4 separate regions of the Homo sapiens genome follow, and all the other regions are linked to region 3. The links come from fine-mapping of genetic effects on gene expression. A gene starts in region 3. Each other region holds a variant in brackets. All regions are shown on one strand. Distances are from middle to middle.

Region 1 (5,130 bases), 74 kb after region 3:
TTGGAATGTGGTCCTGGGCAGACTCAGAATTGCTGTTTAAAATGTTTAATTGAGCAGATGGTTTGGAATGTGAGGACTGAATACCCCCTTTTGAAAGCCAAGAGCTACGGGAGTCTATCAGGCATGGGATGGGGGAAGAGGAGAAAACGAAGGAAAGACATCATTCCAAATAGCCACAGGTGGGAAGCCAGAGTGGGGAGGAGGGGTGGCCTCACTTTGTCACACCACTGACCTGAATCACAGGGCAGGGCCGGAAGGGAATGCCAGTTGCAAATCTTGCCACCTCATCTCACAGCTCACCAAATATTACGGCTTCACACATAAAAACCAGAGTGCTAAGCTGCCAGGAGTGTTAAACTCAAGTAGCTGTGACCAGAAGCAGGCAGGCTCTGGGGACAGGAGTGGGGAGGCTGTCACAGCAGGGCCAGCAGCTCCCATTGGACCCTCCCAGCTCTTAGGTAGCAACTGGAACTGAGCAGGAAATGTAGCTGTTGCCCTGAGAGCCACCTCTGCTGCTCGCCTCTCCATGGTGACAGCATTTAGGGGAGTCCTGCACCTCCTTAGCAGGAGCTGGGCTGCCTCTGAGCAGAAAATAAATGCTTTCAAGCCCCATAAATCAATGAAAATTAGCGGGAGTCAAGGTAAAAATCCATCCTCCACCACTTGGATGTTTGAGCCAAGGTTCTTCTCGGTGATTTAGAGCCATGTAATTAGAGTGATCCACTCTCAGTTGCTGTTGTTGTTTTTTCTTCCTCCCTTCTCTTTCCAGACAAAGTCCTCTCCTATGAGGCAGGTTCCCACTGGCCTCTAGCTCCTCTGGCTAGAAACAGGTGTGTGCACCTGTCAGCTTGGCACCTTGATGGATCTCTGTGCTATCTTGGTTCGCCTCCTCCCTGCCTGCCCCTAATGAACAGTCCGCCCCAGGCTAGGTATGAGATGTGGGTGGGGAGACACACCATCCTTCATAGTCGCCCTCTATCCTCCGCAGAAGTAGAGAGGTGTGGCTGTTAATCCTCAGGTGAAATGTGGCCCCATCCCAGAGGTGGAGGAGGGGGCTGGAGTAAAGAGAGCCTCTGACCTCTGAACTGGGGAGAAGATTGATAGTGGCATGAAGGTTTCCCAGCCTTGCGACCCCTGCCGGATTAGGAACATAATCCAGCAGTTGACAGACATGTGAGGTGGGATTCAGAGGAGTTAGTTGCCTGGATTTACATTTTAAAAAGGCCCCAAGGCCCAGAGGGACAACATGACATGAGGAAATGCAGATAGAATTTAGAGTCCCAGAGACAAAGATTCAAATCCCATCTCCATCATTTCTTATCCGTATGACCATGAACAAATTTCATCAGCTCTTTGAGCCTCAGTTTCCACAATTTAATTTTACTTAAAATTAAAATATTGATGCTATCTCACACAGAATTCTAGTGAAGATTAGATGAAGTAATCAATGTAAAGTTCTAGCATATAATGCCTGGAACATAGCATTTTTTCCCAACGCGCTACCTTTCTGCCTCTCAAATCTTCTCCTTGCTCGAGGCTGTACAACAAGCTAGGAAAGGAATTACAACCCTAACCCAGCTCCTGACATCTTGCTCAGGAAGTGACCTATGTGGGGCTCTCAATCTAGATGCTCACTGAATGGCAGAGAAAACAAAATTAGTAGTTTCCTTCAGGAGGCCAACTAGAACATGCCGCCTCTGAAGAGTGAGGAAGCACGACCAGCATGCTGTGAGGTACCTTGCCAGGTTCAATTCCTGCCTCAGTCTTTTTTTTTTTTTTTTTTTTTTTTTTTGAGACAGGGTCTCTTATGCTTTGTCACCCAGGCTGGAGTGCGGTGGTGTGACCATGGCTCACCACAGCCTCAACCTCTCAGGCTCAAGTGATCCACCCACCTTAGCCTCCCAAGTAGCTGGGAGAAACACCCCCAGCTAATTTTAAAAATATTTTGTTGAGACAAGATCTCACTATGTTCCCCGGGCTGGTCTTGAACTCCTGGGCTCAAGAGATCCTCCTGCCTCAGCCTCTCAAAGTGCTGGAATTACAGGCATGAGTCACCACGCTCAGCCCCTCAGCCACTTTTAAGTTATGACCCTGAGCAATTCCCTAAGCTTCGGTATCTCCCAATGTAAAGTGGTTATAATTGTAATTCTTGCCACAGGGTGGCTCTGAGATTCAAAGGAAATAGTGAATGGGAATACCCTTTGCAAATGATTCCGTATGTATAATAAAGTAACAACTTTACTAACAGAATTTCTCTTAGGAAGGGAATTCTGCTTAGAAGAATGCCTTGATGTGCTTAACACATGGCAGATGTGCTCACAACTTCAGAGAAGGGAGAATATTGCTCTGCATGAGAGAGAGAAGAGAAAAAAGAGGAGGAGGAGCAAGGCACCAACGGGATGGAGAGAGGCCAGGTGTGGAGAAGGGAGAAGTGAAACTCCATACCGTTGGATTGACAAATGGGTGTTTAACAACAATGATGCCCATTGTGCCCCTTCAAGTTGTCTGTGCTGCATAATGTAAGCTCTCTCTTTCTCCCCTACAAAATCTTTGAGTATATCTATTAAACTCACAATTTTTAGAACATCAATCACAAAATCTGGTGATTTACACATATTCTTTCATTTATTTCCCCTATAACTTTTCACAGATGAAGATACAGGCTCAGAAAATATGGACAACTTGCTCAAGGTCACACAAGTGACAGCTGTTGGAGGAGGGCTCTGGATACTGTAGTGCGTTG[C/T]CCTTCTGGGCCTCAGTTTTTGAGGTTAAAAAGGTCACTTAACCTCCATGGGTCCCCAGTTTTTCTATATTTAAGAAGTATCTTGGCTGGGCACAGTGGCTGACTCCCGTAATCCCAGCATTTTGGGAGGCTGAAGCAGGTGGATTGCTTGATGCCAGGGGTTCGAGACCAGCCTGGCCAACATGGCAAAACCCCATCTCTATACAAAAATTAGCCGGGCATGGTGGCGTGCGCCTGTAGTCCCAGCTACTCGGGAGGCTAAGGCAGGAGAATTGCCTGAACCCAGGAGACAGAGGGTGCAGTGAGCCAAGATTGTGCCACTGCACTCCAGCCTAGGTGACAGAGCGAGACTCTGTCACAAAAAAAACACAAAAATCTTTATTGCTTCTTTCCTTGGTCACTCAGATACTTGATAGATGAAAGAGGTCATAGATGTAAAGTACTTTCAGAGATTTTAAACAAACAACTGTGAAAGAAAGCTATTTATTAATATAATACACATCTCCCCATGCTAAAAGGTCTACTTAATCCATCCTGTCCTAAGAAGCCAAAGAGAACTAACCTTCACTCCTGTTTAGAGAGAACAGTTTAGTTTGTCCTTTCTAGTCCAGTGCCAAGTCTATTGCACTTTGCTTTCTCACAATAGAAACCAAGCATATGGATCTCCCTTAAAACCACACAAGTCCAAATAACATGATCATCTCAAAGGATTCCCTTTCTCCTGGAAAATATTTAACAAACAGCTTTCCAGAAAAAAAGTTAAGTCCTGATTTGTTGCATTCGTCTATTTCCTTGGTGTAAATAATTCCACCATGCCTGATTTCAACTTTCTTCATGACATCATTGAAAACAGGATTAGGAAGAGATGTGCAGTTATAGTGTTTCTACCACCTAGGTACACCAGACATAAATAACCCTAAAAGGTTAGATAGCAATGAAATTTAGCAAAATAATTAGGAAGTGATGATATTTAGTATCTTTTTTTCTTTTAATATAATTTGGGCCACGTATAGGCACGGTGGCTCACACCTATAATCCCAGTACTTTGGGAGGCTGAGGCGGGAGGATCATTTGAGGTCAGGAGTTCAAGACCAGCCTGGCCAACATGGCAAAACTCCGTCTCTAATAAAAATACAAAAATTAGCCAGGCATTTTGTCACACACCTGTAATCTCAGCTACTTGGGAGGCTGAGGCATGAGAATCGCTTGAACCTGGGAGGTTCAAGGGTGACAGAATGAGACTCAGTCTCAAAAAAACCTATATATATATGTGTGTGTGTGTGTGTGTGCATAAATATATATGTTTGTATATATATACATATAATTTATTGTAACTTTATACCATTTTAGTTTGTTTTCTTTTCTTTTTTTTTGAGACGGAGTTTTGCTCTTATTGCCCAGGCTGGAGTGCAATGGTGTGATCTCAGCTCACTGCAACCTCTGCTTCCTGGGTTCAAGAAACTCTCCTGCCTCAGCCTCCTGAGTAGCTGGGATTATAGGCACCCACCACCATGCCTGGCTGATTTTTGTATTTTTAGTAGTGACAGGGTTTCACCATGATGGCCAGGCTGGTCTCCAACTCCTGACCTCAGGTGATGTGCCTGCCTCGGCCTCTGAAAGTGCTGGGATTACAGGCATGAGCCACAACATCTGGCCAATTTTAGTTCTTTTTAAAAACAATTTATTTTTGCAAAATTCTTGACAGTTTAACAATCAGTGCTCATGAGCAAGAATGTGGCAGCTTCACTTCCCTCCTTGTGACCTGCACTTGCACCTGCACTCAGGCAGGCCGGAGCACAGAAGCTGAGGCATGTTGGAGAAAGTGCCAAGTGCTTCTGTGATATATTTTTCATTTCTAAAAACAAGATTCACGAAGAAATAACATGCTGAATTGAAAAATGGTTATTTCGATCTCAAAGATTCTTTAATTGAAAATACTCATCTAGGTCAATTCCCTAGCCATGAGCAAGAATTCTTTCTGGTTCTGTTCTCCAGGGTACCTTATTGATCACAGTCCTGTTGGAAAACAGATGGCACACTCAAATGGGGTTTGTCTGAGTAAAGTTTAATGCAGGCATATTTACAAAGATATGGGCAGGGTTCAGAGAAACCCATAAGAAATGGTGCGGTTAGCCAGAATAGGGAATAATGACCACTCGAGGCCTAAAGGATTGGGAAGGAGCAGTCCTCACAGTCTGGAGAGAGTTGTAGGAGAGGGTTGGCCCACAGGAGCTGTGGCCTTTAGTTGAGGAACATAGCCACTGTCAACCTGAGGCCCAGCTGGGGGAATAAATATCCTGATGCTACCCTCAGCCTTTTCCAGTGGCTTGCTGCATAAAAAATTATAAATGCATTCTCCTGTTTCCCTATAAAAACTTCAGGTAAAG
Region 2 (5,120 bases), 30 kb after region 3:
TCATGTGGAAACCTAGAGGAGCCCTCTTCCATCCTCTCCTTTCAATTGAGGCAGGCTTTAAATCTCAGCTGGAGGCTGGTTGCAGTGGCTCACACCTGTAAACCCAACACTTTTGGAAGCCAAGGTGGGAGGACCCCTTGAACCCAGGAGCTCAAGACCAGCCTGAGCAACATAGGGAGACTGTCTCTATAAAAAAATGAACAAAATTAGCCAGGCATGGTAGTGCATACCTGTAGCTACTCAGGAGGCTGATGTGGAAGATCGCTTGAGCCCAGGAGGCAGTCTGCAGTGAGCCAAGATAGCGCCACTGCACTCCAGCCTGGGCAACAGAGTGAGACCCTGTCTCAAAAAACAAGAAGACTGAGATGGTGGGTTTTTGGTTTTTTGTTTGTTTTCTTTTTTTTTTTTTTTTTTGAGACGGAGTCTCGCTCTGTCACTCAGGCTGGAGTGCAGTGGTACAATCTCAGCTCACTGCAACCTCCACCTCCTGGATTCAAGCAATTCTCCCTGCCTCAGCCTCCCAAGTAGCTGAGATTACAGGCACCCGCCACCATGCCTGGCTAATTTTTGTATTTCTTAGTAGAGACGGGGTTTCTTCATGTTGGCCAGGCTGGTCTCGAACTCCTGACCTCAAGTGATCTGCCTTCCTCAGCCTCCCAAAGTGCTGGGATTATAAGCATGAGCCACTGTGCCTGGCAGAGATCACTATTTATAAGGAAGACTCCCATAATGTTAGGCTGCTGTAAATGATAGAATGGTTCTTTATATGGAATGGGAGTTTGCCTTCTTGGCACTTACACCCATTGATTCTACTTCTTTGTTGCCCTCTGGAGCCAACACAATAACTCTTAACTCCTTTTCCCTACGCTACCTCTCCAAATATTTGAAGACAGCTGTCCTGTGTGCCCATAGGTCTTTCCCTCTGTTGAGCAATATACATTCTCAATTTCTTCATTTGTTCCTCCTGAGACCTGATTTCCAGATCTTTCCTCACTCTGTTCTTCCTTCCTTAGTTAATATATTCTATAAAATGAGGTATCCAGAACTGAATAGAAAATATTGTATAATCAGATAAATTCTAATACAGTGAGAATACTATATCCCTTGAGCTAGCACTGTGTTTCTATTGACATAAGCAGGATAGCCGGGGCAGGGAAGGACTATGGGGCAGGCTGGGAGTGAGAAATGAGAGGAATTCTCTTTCTCTTGCAAATTGTGTCCATCTACTTGAGCTCTGGGGCTGCATCAGTCACTGATACCTTAATCCATACAAATCTCCAAGCTCAGAAAGGGAGCTGCCACATCAGCAGCCATTTGTGGCAAGCAAACATTTGCCGAGTAGAATCTGTAATTTATGAGAAGGGAAAGGAGCATTAGTGCAGAGAAACAATGTGGACAGGTGAGAAGGAGAGGCCCTGTTATCTCAAGGGAAGGAAGTGCAGATGACCTAGGCTAGGGAAGCTAACTATTTCCACTCCTCTTTTCCATTGCTGTTCAGGTAATTCCTTCATTCCTCCCTCCCTCCCTTCCTCCCTCCTTCTCTCTCTTCCTCCCTCCCTCCTTTCCTCCCTCCTTCTCTCTCTTCCTCCCTCCCTCCTTTCCTCCCTCCTTCTCTCTCTTCCTCCCTCCCTTCCTTCTTTCCTTCCTTCCTTCCTCCCTCCCTTTTCCTTCCTTCCTTCCTTCCTTTTTCCTTCCTTCTTCCTCTCTTTCTTTCTTTCCTCTCTCTCTCTTTTCTTTTCTTTTCTTTTTTAGAAACAGGGTCTAGCTCTGTTGCCCGTGCTGGGGTATAGTGATGCCATCATAGCTCACTGCAGCCTCAAACTCCTGGGCTCAAGAGATCTCAAGGGATCCTCACAAGTTAGCCTCCCAAGTAGCTGGGACTACAGGTGTGTGTCACCACGCTTGACGAATTTATTTCATTTTTTTTAGAGACAGAGCCTCACTAAGTTGCCCAGGCTGGTCTGGAACTCCTCGGCTCAAGCAATCCTCCAGCCACAGCCTCCTGAGTCACTGGGATTACAGACATGAGCTACGATGCCTGACTATCTATTTCTTTCATGAAACTGTATCCCCACCTTCCTCCTTGGTGGCAGCTGTTACTAGCTTTGTTGTCGTTATTGTTATTGACATTTATCTAGCACTTTGCTATTAGCGCTTATTTCTCACTACATCTCTGGGAGGTTAGTATGATCATTATTCTCACTTTACATATGAAGAGCCCAAGGCTTGGAGAAAATAAGTAATGTATTCCAGATCATATATCTGAAAAGCAACATATAATTTTCTTTTTCTGCCTCTGGTCCTCAAGAATTTATATACATTTACATATGTTGAATATGCAGTACATTTAGGATGATGGCCTCTCTTTCTCCCTACTCCTCAACACTACCCCTAGGTATCAGATCATCAAGCATTGTTTAGCGTCTTAGGTCACTCCCTCCTCTTTTTCCTTTTGGAAAAGAAAAATCAAGCAGACTGCCCAAATAGCCAAGATCATCAGGTTCAGCAAGAGAATACCCCTCTCTGTGTAACCCTTTAAGATGAGAATCACTGCAAATAGAGTCCAAGTCAGACACTGACTCAGATTTTGCGAAAACCTCTAATAGTCCATGGCTTGGTGGTGATGGGTAGTTTTGCTTTAGGGATCTTCCGCTTGGGGTGGTCTTCTCCATGTTTGGAAAGATATTGTTTGAACGTGACTGATCTTGCAGTTGAAGGTTCCAGTTTCTATACCACAGCAAGCCTGGGAAAATGAGAAGGGGGTTATTAAAATGAATTTGAGAAGCGTTTT[C/T]TTTGAGGACATCTCTTTCTAAATCCTTCCAATGGGCATGGAATGCTATGACTATCCAGATAGTGGGAGTCATGATACAGGGAGGAGTAAGAAGTGGGGGCTTTCAGTCCCAGAGTTAGAGACCACAGCATTGCCCAGTTTCCTGCCCTCACATGAATCAGCCTCCCTGCACATCGCTTCCTCCCCCACCTTGTTAAAAACCCCATCATGGTAGATATATGGGTCAGAGCTTTGAAGACTTTGGGGAATAAGCAGATCAAAAGTCCAAATGTCCAACTCCTTTCACCTGTGAATCTCCCATCATTGGACTGCAGAGCCAGCTGCAAGGCAGATGGAAGGCAGAAACCTGGAGGCTACAAGCAGCTTCCCATCCTATAACTCAGCCCAGGTCCTGGGGAACCTGTAGAGGGTCCTGACAGCAGAATTAACATGATGGGGAGAGGCAGGCAGAGGAGAGGAAAGGGACACAGAGCCAGATTAGGGGCAGTAGATAACTTGGGTCTGGCATCTGCTCTTCTGCTTTATGCAAATGTTGCTTTAACCCCAAAGAAGCCACATTCTGAGACTAGCTTGTTGTTTATTTAAAAATATGCAGACTTTGCAGCCCATCTGGAAAGCTCTGAGGGGCTCCTGATACAGGCATCTCGTCATATCCCAGCAGCAGGGCAGTAAATCGAGAACATGCAGAAACATCAAAAAAGCCCTTCCTTGATCAGATGTTGTAAAGAATTTGCCAAGTCTGCAGATAAGGAGATCACTGGAGTGCCTGTGTGAGATCCTCAGAGAAAGCCCATTTATTTTCTCCTTCCCATTACCTTCTGCTCTCTAGATGAGCAAGGCATGCACAAGAAGGGGGAGGTGGGTGAGCCACTGGTAGCGAGGCCACGCGGTCCACATCACATATGGCCCATCCTCACCAAGTGCTCTGAGGGAACAGTGTGGGAGGATCTTGCCTTTCCTTATCAGTTTTGAAATACAAGGCACAGAGCCTCAGTGGCTGCCAAGGTAAAAGGCTATCACAGAGCAAATACCTGAATAGGAGAGACATATTTGAGAAAGAACAGATAACATTTTCAACATATTTAGAGATCCTAGCTCTCGTCTAGCTTCAGTATGTCTTTACCTGAGCTTTTACCAGCAAGAGGTGTCAAACAGATTAAATAGTTTATGGGAAGGCAGGATCCAGGCACCTTACAAGTTCTTTTTTCATATGTTGGAGCCGGCCTGGAGACAACCAGCTGAAATAATGGGTCTTGGTAATTTTCACAAGCTAAGGGACTCCAAATCTGCAATATTTCACTTACTTTGCAGATAGTCACTCAGCCCCCTGACCAAGGGGAATATCAATTTTTGCCGAGAATCAGTAAAAATCATTAAACGACAGTGAGAGTATAAGGGGGTGGGGTGGGATTTACAGCTTCTTTTTATAAGACCAAGTTAAAGCCTCATGAGTCTCCTGCACTTTCACTTTCACCTCTCCCATCATCAGCCCTGATTGGTAGCTACAGAAATGGAGGCCCACGGAATTTCAATAAGCTGGAGGCGATATCAGAGGAAACCGAGAGCTCTCCACACATGACAAGCTTTCAGGGAGTGTCATGGCGAGAGAGCCAAGATAAGCCCATTAAAGGGCAGAGTGGGCAGGTAGGACGTACTGTGTGGGGTCAAAAAATCTGAAATCTACAATGAGGAAGAGACCAATTCCAGGTTGTATCTGCAAATCTTAAAATGCAAGGATACCTGGGAGGAGAGAAAATTCTAAGAACGAAAAGATATTGGGTTTTAGGAGACAGGCTCTGAAAATGGGAAGAAGAAGATAAACAGAAGGTTGGTGCTTAAGTAACTCTCTCCTTTAAGAACTGTGACCCATGTTCCTAATGTTTCTGGCTTTTCATATTTCCTTGAGATTCAGTCTTACTTGGTTACTTGTCCCTCTAAAACATGGCACTCTTGGCCAGGCGTGGTGGCTCACACCTGTAATCTTTGGGAGGCTGAGGCAGGTGTATCCCCTGAGGTCAGGAGTTCAAGACCAGCCTGGTCAACATGGTGAACTCCTGTCTCTACTAAAAATACAAAAATTAGCCCGGTGTGGTGGCATGCGCCTGTAATCCCAGCTACTTGGGAGGCTAAGGCAGGAGAATCACTTGAACCTGGGAGGCAGAAGATGCAGTGAGTCGAGATTGTGCCACAGCACCCCAGCCTGGGAGACAGAGACTCTGTCTCAAAACAAAAACAAAACAGAACAACAACAAAAGTGGCACTCTTTCTATCTTGATTTTTAATAAGTCCTTTCTGTTCTTTTCTTTTTTTTTTTGAGTTGGAGTTTCAC
Region 3 (5,139 bases):
GAAAAATAAGAACCAACTTGGCTTGGTGTTCCCTATCCTTCTCTTTGGAAGATTCCAGGCGCTCAGCTAAAGCAGCCAAAGACGTGGGTAAAATATCCGTGCTGTTAAATTCACAGCAGGACAGGGGGGCGGGGGAGGGATGTCTCTGAAAAGGAGGGTTCTCTGGGCCCCTTTTAACACCCAAGTTTTCCGCTGTTTGCTAATCTGGCCATAAAATCTGTCAGTGAGGGTTAGAGAGAGCTGTATTTCCTGCAGGGACAGTCTGCCCGAGTTGCCTGAGATAAGCTCTGGATCCTTCAGCCAGCTACAGAAGCTGTTGCTAAACTTTCAGAGGTGTTCAAGGGGGTGGCCAGAGGGAGAACCCACTCTCAGGCCTCCCTGCATGACTTCCAGACAGCTACTATTTGGATTATTCTATGCCCACCCCCATCCACACCTCTAAATGGCAAAAATTGTTTTCTTTGGAGCCTAGTTGCACACTACTGTCGCTGGCCACTTTGCCCAGGTCAGAGCAGCTCTCTCTGTTCTGAGCCCTCCAGAGCATGCCTCCTCGGTCCCTGCAGCCCCCACCTCCAACTCCCCTTTCTCCATCCTCCTCTCCCCCACCCTCATGCTTCTACTCAGACTTCTCTGTCCTTCTTTTTAAGTACTCACGCAGATGTTACACTGACAGAAAGTTTCTAGTTCCAGCTCCGGGCTCAGTTGCCATTTCTCTGCTAACCAGCCTTCTCCTCCTGGCTGGGCAGCAGAGAGAGAGGAGGGGGAGGGGAGGCCAAAGCCATGGGAGTTCTCCAGGCAAACTTTCCACCCAACTTAGCGCTTTCCCTCTGTCCCCATTTCCCATCTGTTTCCCAGCTCTCCCAGAATCACCCTTCTCTTTTGCACCCCCACCCCCACCCCCAGGCCTTTTTAAGGGATGTGAAATTTTGGCTGTTCGCTCTGCTTTCCCAAAGAGCCAAATTCTTTGATGCAATCGGAGGGAGCTGTCAGGGGGCTAAGATTGATCGCCTCATCTCCTCTCCATCCGTCTGACCCACTTATTTAAAAATCTTCCCCCAGATCGACTTTTCATTTTCTGCTTTGAGGCCTAGTTTCCCACCAATTGCTTGGGGCTCAGAGTCTTGTGCCCTCTCCCCATAGTAAATTACAACACTCTAAACTTCAGACTATCTTGGTCTCCTCAAAATAAAATAAATTTTAAAAACATTTTCCCCCAGCAGCCAGAAATGGAATATCATCTCAGTGGTCATTATTTCCACCCCTACCATCTTCAGGGAATTCTTCCTTGTCAGGGATTCTTTTTTTTTTTTTTTTCTTTTTTCTTTTTTAACTAGCACAATGGCAAAAATGGGAGGGAAAGTCTCTTTGTCCTAGGGGAAAATCTCCCCACCACACTCATGCACACACATAACGCTGATCTGAACTTTGAGAGTGCTCTAAGTTAAACCAATGGCTACCTCAGTTCTTGTTCATGTCCCTGGATATGGATACAGATACAAGCTTGAGGCTTGAGTGGGTACATGCACATCTTAGACTCTGCCTGTTTTTGGGGGATGTCACAGAGAAGCATGGAAGCCTGAAAGTGAGGAAAGCAGGGGTACATAAGGGGCAGAGGCAGTGCTGCAAACACTGGGCAGAGAAGAGAACCCAGACCATACAGCGATGGAGGCCAGAGGCCCAAAAATGCCCCTTATGCTCCATCTCACTCCTATGTGTCTGCCTGGGAGTTCCTGTCCATTTCCCAAGATTTAACTGTTGTTTTTGGAGGGTAACAGGGATAGTGGTGTGATGATTGTAAATCTCTTTCTTATTTTCACCTTAATACTGACCTTTTTCAAAGAGTGGAAGCCTCTTTCGACTCCCTCTTCCTCCAACGCGGAGATCCTCACTCATCTTTTCCTGGGGAAGGGGAGAAGGGAAGGGGATGCTGCTGGCCACGTAAAGAAGGCCTTAATTTACTCTATTAAAATACTTGGAAAAGAGGAAGGTTTCTCCCTTAGAGTCTCTTCTTTTCCAGGCTTCTGAAACCTTCTAACCTTCGAAGGGGATGAGGAAAAGGTTCCTCTAGCTTTTCTGGAGAAACGGAGGCATTGGGGAGAGAGCATGTGAGGCACTGGTGTAGGAATGGGGGCTCATGGTGTCCTGGTCGTGGTCCTCTGGTGTTTTTGAATCAATTAAACCAAATAATGCTCTCTGTTTTCCACCAGGCCCAGACGAGCGATTGGCGGAGGCCGGTCCCGTGACCACGAATTCCCTGTAATTTCGCTGGAGTCCTGGGTTTAATAGAGAGAGTCCCCATACGCTTGTATTTATCAGCAATATACAATTATAAAGGCCCAAAATTAAAAAAAAGAGAGACCGAAATCTCCCCCTCCCAAAATCGCTCCATTACATAAATCGGGGGGGGTGCAGGAGGGGGGTCCCTTCCGATCCTCCCTCCTGACGCCCCCCCCAGCAGCCCCCTCCCCCACCATTGAAAGCCATGAATTTTGAATTTGAGAGGGAGATTGGGTTTATAAACAGCCAGCCGTCGCTCGCCGAGTGTCTGACTTCCTTCCCCGCTGTCTTGGAGACATTTCAAACTTCATCAATCAAGGAGTCGACATTAATTCCTCCTCCTCCTCCTTTCGAGCAAACCTTCCCCAGCCTCCAGCCCGGCGCCTCCACCCTTCAGAGACCCAGGAGCCAAAAGCGAGCCGAAGATGGGCCTGCTCTGCCGCCGCCACCGCCGCCGCCACTCCCCGCTGCCCCCCCGGCCCCCGAGTTCCCTTGGATGAAAGAGAAGAAATCCGCCAAGAAACCCAGCCAATCCGCCACGTCTCCTTCTCCGGCCGCCTCCGCCGTTCCGGCCTCCGGGGTCGGATCGCCTGCAGGTCGGTAAGCGTGGTGGGGGTGGGGTGAGGGGCAGCTAGAAGAGGGGGAGAAAAAGCAGTGGAAGGAGGTTTAAAAAAAATGGTGGCGAGCCTGTTGGGGTTCCTTACCCCCTCCATTCCTGGGATGGGGAAGTAGAATATCCCACTGGGGTTCAGGCCTGGCCGCTAACAGCGTCTTTTTTTTTTTCTGTCTCTCTCTCTCTTTCTCTCCCTATGGCTGATTTTGGAAGCTGGTTGGGGAAACGCCTTTTTTTCTGCTAGAAGAAAATGATTTGATTGAGGTTTTCACCCGTATCTGTGTAGGGGAATGAGTATGTTGTTGCTGGGATAGACCCTAGAAGCAGAAAAGATTCGGTCCTTTCTGCCCCAACTCTAGGAGAAGAGGAAGAATTCAGAGCTAGGGAGGAAGAGGGGTGAAGAACAATCTTTCTGACCCTCGCTCCGGTTGAGTTGGAAAGTTCCGAATTGAGGGGTCCACTGGGAGGGCTTGGGAGGGGGATCTGAGGTTCCGGCGCCGAAGGGAGCCGCTCTCCGCCCCCTGCGTGGCCCGTGGGCGGCTCTGAATGCTTTGCCCTGACCCGGGCCGGGGCTGTAGACTAGAGAGGGAGAGAAGAAAACCCAAAAGCAGTAAAGCGAGCGGCTTTGGGGTGGGGGCGGGGGTGGGGTGGCGAGGAAGGGGAGAGGTGATACTGGTTTTGGAGGATGGGGTAGTCCGAACTGAGGTTGGGCTGAGTACACGGCCCGCTATGACGCCGAGCCTGTTTTCCCTGCAGATGGCCTGGGACTGCCGGAGGCTGGTGGCGGCGGGGCGCGCAGGCTGCGCACGGCTTACACCAACACGCAGCTGCTGGAACTGGAGAAGGAATTCCACTTTAATAAGTACCTGTGCCGGCCACGCCGCGTCGAGATCGCGGCCTTGCTGGACCTCACCGAAAGGCAGGTCAAAGTCTGGTTTCAGAACCGGCGCATGAAGCACAAGCGGCAGACGCAGCACCGAGAGCCGCCGGATGGGGAGCCTGCCTGCCCGGGAGCCCTGGAGGACATCTGCGACCCTGCCGAGGAACCCGCGGCCAGCCCGGGCGGCCCCTCCGCCTCGCGGGCGGCGTGGGAAGCCTGCTGTCACCCGCCGGAGGTGGTGCCGGGGGCCTTAAGCGCGGACCCCCGGCCTTTAGCCGTTCGCTTAGAGGGCGCAGGCGCGTCGAGTCCCGGCTGCGCGCTGCGCGGGGCCGGCGGGCTGGAGCCCGGGCCATTGCCAGAAGACGTCTTCTCGGGGCGCCAGGATTCACCTTTCCTTCCCGACCTCAACTTCTTCGCGGCCGACTCCTGTCTCCAGCTATCCGGAGGCCTCTCCCCTAGCCTACAGGGTTCTCTCGACAGCCCGGTCCCTTTTTCCGAGGAAGAGCTGGATTTTTTCACCAGTACGCTCTGTGCCATCGACCTGCAGTTTCCCTAACCTGTTTCCTCCTCCCGGTCCTTTCGACCCCCGCGCTCCTTGGCCGTCTACTGGAAAAATCGAGCCTCTCCCACCCTCAGTCGCATAGACTTATGTGTTTTGCTAAAATTCAGGTATTACTGAATTAGCGTTTAATCCACTCCCTTTCTTCTTCTTCTAAAATATTGGGCACTCGGTTATCTTTTAAAATTCACACAGAAAAATTCCGTTTGGTAGACTCCTTCCAATGAAATCTCAGGAATAATTAAACTCTAGGGGGACTTTCTTAAAAATAACTAGAGGGACCTATTTTCCTCTTTTTTATGTTTTAGACTGTAGATTATTTATTAAAATTCTTTAATAATAGGAAAAGGGGAAAGTATTTATTGTACATTATTTTCATAGATTAAATAAATGTCTTTATAATACCAAAACGAGTGTTTGTGTTGGGACCTAAACTCTTTCCCCGCGGCCCCAAGGCCGGTCCTCACCCCTCCAGGACCTGTGCGAAGTTGATTAGGTTCAGCGGCCCATATGGCAGCAAAGCCTCCAGGGCCGGCGAAGTCCGGGTGGTACAAAGGTGACCCGATTGATGGCCGCTTCGCCCACGGCTCCGGCAAAAGTCGGGAGTTTGCAGGAAGCTGGGTCACCTCCCCGCCCCTCAGCAGAGGGTCTTTGGTCCTGAGCGGGTGGTTCTGGGGCCTCTGCTTGGAAATAGAGATGGGCAGGTCGAGGGAGAGAGTGTACAGCGAACAGAGGAGGGTGAAAGGAGAGGAAGCCTGTGGACAGTCTTCAGGGTCGTGGCGGGGGCAGAAGTTTACTGGAATTGGGAAC
Region 4 (5,134 bases), 560 kb after region 3:
AGCTTGTTCCCTGCTCTGAACTGGCAATAGGAAAGGAATTCTAGATGTGCCAGACTCCCCATGATACTGGCAGGCCCTCAGAGGGGCACAGGGGGTGGACCGCTGGGGCCCAGATGAACGAGCCTTAGCACTCCACTTATCCCATGTTCACAGTCAGCCACTGCAGGCTGCAGTGCAAAGGGATCCTACTTTTGTGGTCTATAAAGAGAACCACACCGGAGAGGACACGGTAGAACTGACGCAGGGAGAGAGGCAATGTTTGGGCAGAGAGGCAGTGAGTGGGGCTGAGCCATGGCTGGATTTAGCAAGCAGAGAATTTTGGAAAGGTGACTCGCTGCTTCCTTATCTGAAGCCGGGTGAGGAGTCTTAGCCAAGTAGTGAGAGGCGTTGCCTTAAATCCTCTCTGGAAAGAGGTGGGATAAAAGTCAACACAAAAGTATAGTGTGCTCTTGGCAGCATAATTCACATCAAACTAAGGATTCTGAGGGTGTAATCTTGGTGCACCGCTTCCCTCTTTCCCTGAAAGAGGGAAGTTTCAACCTGACTGCTTGAAACTTGGTCTCAAGCTCCCCTAAAGCCCCTCACCTCTCCTTTCCAAGAAGACAAGTTAGGCCAGGATGGAGAGTCCTCATCATGGTTCCCCAAACCAAAAATAAGAGCTCACACATGTCCACCAAGAGCCTCCTCCGCACCAGGCAGCGTTCTAAGAGCTCTGCATATCTTAACTCATTCTGTCCCTACAACGACTTCTGAGGGCATTCTGAGATACACAAGCAGGAACCCAAATACAACCAGTGAAGCTCAGGGAAGCTGGAGGCAGACCTGAAAGACACAGAGCTGCTCTTGCCAGGGAGAACCAGCCGGGTGGATCCCTTCAGTGCCTTCAGCATGGCCAGGAGGGCTGGACTCAGGAAGCAGGCGGCGGTAAAGGAAAGGGAGGCTAAAGGTTCTGGAGAACAAACCCAATGTTATCGAGTTAAAGGCTTTCATGAAACCACTTGCCTCAGCCTGGGGATCAGGGTGGGCCTTGATGTCACCTGTTAAGCAGTCACCTAGTATCTCTGATCCAGAGCAGTGGCCTAACCACACTGCTTACCAAGGGGGCCAAAATCAGCTGAGAAAACTCTATCTAAACCCACTTCCCTTCCTGGGAAAATAGCCAAACCTCAGTGAGCACTGCTTCCCCTCGCTGACCTTAGGCAGGGCTGGGAAAGCAGGTCAGGTGCTCATCTGCAAGCGCAGGGGCAGAAGCTTTGGAGGCCTGAACCCGGTCTGCCATGGTCACCTGGTCCACGGGGTTTCTCCCTGAAGCTCCATTGCTGTAAGCAATGGAGTCTGCGTAACAGCTGGTGACTGGGCAAAGGACATTAGAGTGGGCAAGGGTAGTATGCCTCAGTGAACTGACTGCTACTGCAAGAGGCTGGCCAGATGGCCAACGGAGCCAGCAGCTGAACAGGTGGGGCAGGAGCTAGAAGGCAATCTCCCAGAGGGAGAGGGACCAAGAGCAGCAGGCAGTTCCCTAAGCCAAGAGCATCCCTCCTGAGTGTTGAGGCCAGAGTGCAGTCCACTTACCTCCTCTATACCCTGCTAGTCTGCGGAGTCTTACCTCCATGTTCAACACCAATATTTTTCCAATTCCCGGACTTCTCATTTCAGCCCCTGATCCCCCAGAAAGAGGTGACCAGGCAAAGATTGGGGGGAAGTGGTGGGTTGACATTAATTGATAGGAACGGCTTCGAGCAGTTCATGCTGCCTTATCTCTCTCTCCTTTGGCTGGAGTCCGCGGGGTCGGTGATTAATAGGCGCCATCACTCACTGTCCAGGACGGCTGAAAGGCAGTGGGGAGGGGGTGGCCCTCCCCAGAACTGAGATAACAAGCAGCAGGAATAATGAGTGGTGTCACTCCACTTTTCATTTTGATGGAAAGTCATTACGGGAGTCAACGCCAGCGACAAAGAGCCATGAATCAACTGCTCTGCTATGAAATTAAAATCGAATTGCCAGCCACCCCCAACCCCTACCCTTCCTGGGAAATGGGGATGGGTAGGTGGCTTGGGAGAGGGCTGCTATCCTGGGGTGGGCTCTATCCGATCACAGAGCGGGCAGTTATGGGCAGGAAGTGGACAGGCAGCCAGGGAAGGTGACAGCTCCTGTCTCCACCTTGTTTATCAGACCCTTCCTCCCCAAACCGCATTTTCCCTCTGCCTGGAGGTAAGCTGTGATTAAAAGGAAAATGCAGCTTTGCTGGCTCCAACAAGGCTGCTGCTTGACCGCTCCCCCAGGGCTTCTGGCCTGAGTCGGGCGGCCTGGGCCTGGTTATGGAAAGGGGCCCACACGTAGCCATCCCAGAGCCCCTTACTGAACCATTTGTAGATGTGGGGTCCTCTTTATCACCAGAAGCAAAGGGGAAAAGTCCTCAACTTGGGGCTCCACAGTGACAGCTGATGGCCTGGGGAGCCCACCTGGATCAGGGAGCCCACCTGGATCAAGAACCCCACGAAAACAGGTGCGAAGCCTCAACTGCAGGCTCAGAGAAGCAGCATAAGGAACTGTCAGTACTGAAGCAAGAGTTTTTTCCTCTTTTATTAAGTCCGCTATACTAACTAGAAGGAGAATCTGTGGTTTTCGCCTG[A/G]TAGACCACAGGGCCAATCACCACAGCTTCTTGTAGAGAACATGGAGAGTGCCAAGATCACCATCAGGTGCCGCTTCCTTCCTGTGGCTTTCCATCTTCCAGTCAGCCTGGTCTTTTGCCTTGAAGGGCCCCAAAACAACAGCCCTGGCTATCATCTTCATCCCAAAAGCGGAGAAGATGGGCAGGCAAGAACACGGAGGGTGTCACAGAGAGGTTCCCATCAGGTTCACAGGGCGCCCGCTGTACCTCTTGGAGATGTCAGCTTCAATCTGAAAGAGTGATACCAAGTGGGCAGAAGCAGGGGTGCTCAGGGCCTCATTTTGCACAGACTGGGAGTCCTCCCACTGGCAGGCCTCCCTTTCCCATCTCACCAGCTTCTGCAGCTCCTTGGTCTTCTCCAGTAGCAGGTCCAGCTTAGGCTCCAGAGCCGCCTGCTCCTCAAGTGCCTCCTGCTGCTTCTGCACCATCAGCTCTTTCTTCAAAGCCAGCAGCTGGGACTGCTTCAGCTTTTGCTGGAGGAATTCAGTCACTCGGTCCACATACCTGTGCGGGGCACTCAGGTGAGTGCTGGGTTAGCTGTGCATCCTGAGCATTCCCATTCAGCTGCTGGGGAGGTGAGAGGCTCGGGAAACCAAACCCCCAACTGGCCGCTTACCCTCACATCCTTAAACCCTTTCCTTTTAAGGAAAACCCACTCCCAGTTCCCCTGTCCTACTCAGGAAGCAAGCAGATTCTTCCTGTATATGTGAAACCTCCCCCTCTTGTCCCAAAGAGAACCCCTATCCCCAGTGGATGGCAATGGCCAGGAGGCAGGGATGGGGTTTAAGGGGTCATGGAACAAGAGGAGGAATACAAGGAGGCAGAGCTGCTCAAGATGGCAGAGCCTTGCATCAAGGGGAAGCCAGACCTTGGTGAGGCCAGGATCATAAACAGGTGTTGCAGCTGAAGACTGGTAAGCTTGCCAATCAGATCCTCCAGCACTGACACCATGGTAACCATCTTCTCTTTGGTCTGGCCCTGCAGGATGGCTGGAGCCAGCTGGAACTGGCTCACAGACAGGACATCTGCCTCCTCACTCAACTCCACTGCTCTCTGGGCTAAGAAGATCTCAAGCTGAGGACAGAAGAAAGATTGGTTCAGGCTGTACATGATGGCTCACACTTGCAATTCCAGCACTGTGGGAGGCCAAGGCAGGAGGATCGCTTGAGGCCAGGAGTTCAAGACCAGCCTGGGAAACGATGAGACCCTGTCTCTACAGAAATGTTTAAAATTAGCCAAACATGGTGGTGTATGCCTGTAGTCCCAGCTACTCAGGAGGCTGAGGCGGGAGGATCACTTGAGCCCAGGAGTTTGAGGTTATAGTGAGCTATGATTGCTGCACTGCACTCCAGACTGGGCGACAGAGAAACTCTTTTTAAAAAAAAAGGAAGAAAGAAAAAAAGAAGATAAATTGGTTCAAACTGAGAGAAGAACTCAGAATCTAAGCCCTCGGACTACTCGAAATGCAAAAATGAGACATGAGGGCTAGACTCTGGGTAAGGAGTTTCCTCTGAACACTGTAAGCGCTAGGAGAGACTACTGTCACCCTTCAGTCCCCACCTCCTATCTCATCCTAACCCCAGACCTCTGTCCTTTCTCCCCAGCCTGGGATCAGATAACTGAGAATACAGAGACTCAAAGGGTTCTCTCTGCCCAGGGAAGGTATTTATTTTGTCTCCATGGGAGGAATGAGATTCAGGGAACAGAAATACATGTTTGAGAAGCACTGGATTAAGGCAAGGCTGAAAAGAATACAAGAGCCAGCCATATTAACTTATCAATCCTATTCTGCCGTTAAAACTTCACAGATATCTTTTGTCCTCTCCCCTTGAGGCTGGGAGGAGCCTCTGGGCAGAAAGAGGAGAGAACTGGGTGAGGACAGAACTTTCAGGAGGCTCTCCGAACCAGCAGGCTACTGGGAAGGGAGCAGATACAGAGATTAACAAAGACAGGACCCCGTCCTCCCAGCCTTACAACAAAGGTCCAAGAACGCTGGCTCCTTACGCTGGGCTGCTCAACACCTTAGCCACAGGGATCGTCCTTAAACACAAATGAGATCATGTTCCTAACCTGCTCGAAACCTCCAACAGCTTCCCAGTTCACTCAGAGGCAAACCAAGGTTCAGACGCTACATCTCTGAGCTCTTCTACTCCCCACCAGCTCTCTCTCCTCAGCCACACCAGCCTCCATGTTGCTGGTCAACTGTGCAAGGTCTGCTCCCACCTCGGGACCTCTGCACTTGCTCTCTCTGCCTGGGAAGCCCTTCTGCCAGACATCTGCATGGTTCTCTCTGCACCGCCTGCAGTCTTGATTACAGGTCACCTTCTCAATGAGGCCTTCCCTGACCACCAGATACAAAACCATAGCCCTTTCCAACATCCTCGTCATCCTCCCCTACTTTCTCTTTCTCCGTGGCATTTGGTGCCATCTAGCATCCTGCATATTTTATTTATTTATCTTCTT

What was found. PIP is the estimated chance that this variant, and not a neighbour inherited with it, causes the effect.
Region 1: its variant is the best candidate, but not a certain one, in a credible set for the expression of HOXB2 in blood mononuclear cells (TOPMed, PIP 0.82).
Region 2: its variant is the best candidate, but not a certain one, in a credible set for the expression of HOXB2 in whole blood (TOPMed, PIP 0.76).
Region 4: its variant is the best candidate, but not a certain one, in a credible set for the expression of HOXB2 in whole blood (TOPMed, PIP 0.75).

The regions. Positions count from the first base shown.
Region 1 is chr17:48,467,868-48,472,997 of GRCh38, reverse strand. No RefSeq gene overlaps it. Among named protein-coding and RNA genes, the nearest start is that of SKAP1, 40 kb to the right of the region's middle. The variant C/T (reference allele first, on the strand shown) is at 2,744.
Region 2 is chr17:48,512,489-48,517,608 of GRCh38, reverse strand. No RefSeq gene overlaps it. Among named protein-coding and RNA genes, the nearest start is that of HOXB1, 16 kb to the left of the region's middle. RefSeq lists enhancers at 571-1,081, 3,359-3,408. The variant C/T (reference allele first, on the strand shown) is at 2,792.
Region 3 is chr17:48,542,255-48,547,393 of GRCh38, reverse strand. HOXB2 (homeobox B2) reads left to right here and starts at 2,285. Exons shown (of 2, transcript NM_002145.4): 1 at 2,285-2,873; 2 at 3,647-4,739. The coding sequence starts at 2,483. The coding sequence ends at 4,326. HOXB-AS1 (HOXB cluster antisense RNA 1) reads right to left here and starts at 3,043. Exons shown (of 7, transcript NR_102279.1): 1 at 2,982-3,043; 2 at 2,037-2,273; 3 at 1,830-1,899. RefSeq lists an enhancer at 3,417-4,062 and a silencer at 3,870-4,159.
Region 4 is chr17:47,979,204-47,984,337 of GRCh38, reverse strand. CDK5RAP3 (CDK5 regulatory subunit associated protein 3) reads right to left here. Exons shown (of 14, transcript NM_176096.3): 12 at 3,540-3,745; 13 at 3,004-3,175; 14 at 2,557-2,901. The coding sequence ends at 2,836. Among named protein-coding and RNA genes, the nearest start is that of CDK5RAP3, 11 kb to the right of the region's middle. The variant A/G (reference allele first, on the strand shown) is at 2,633.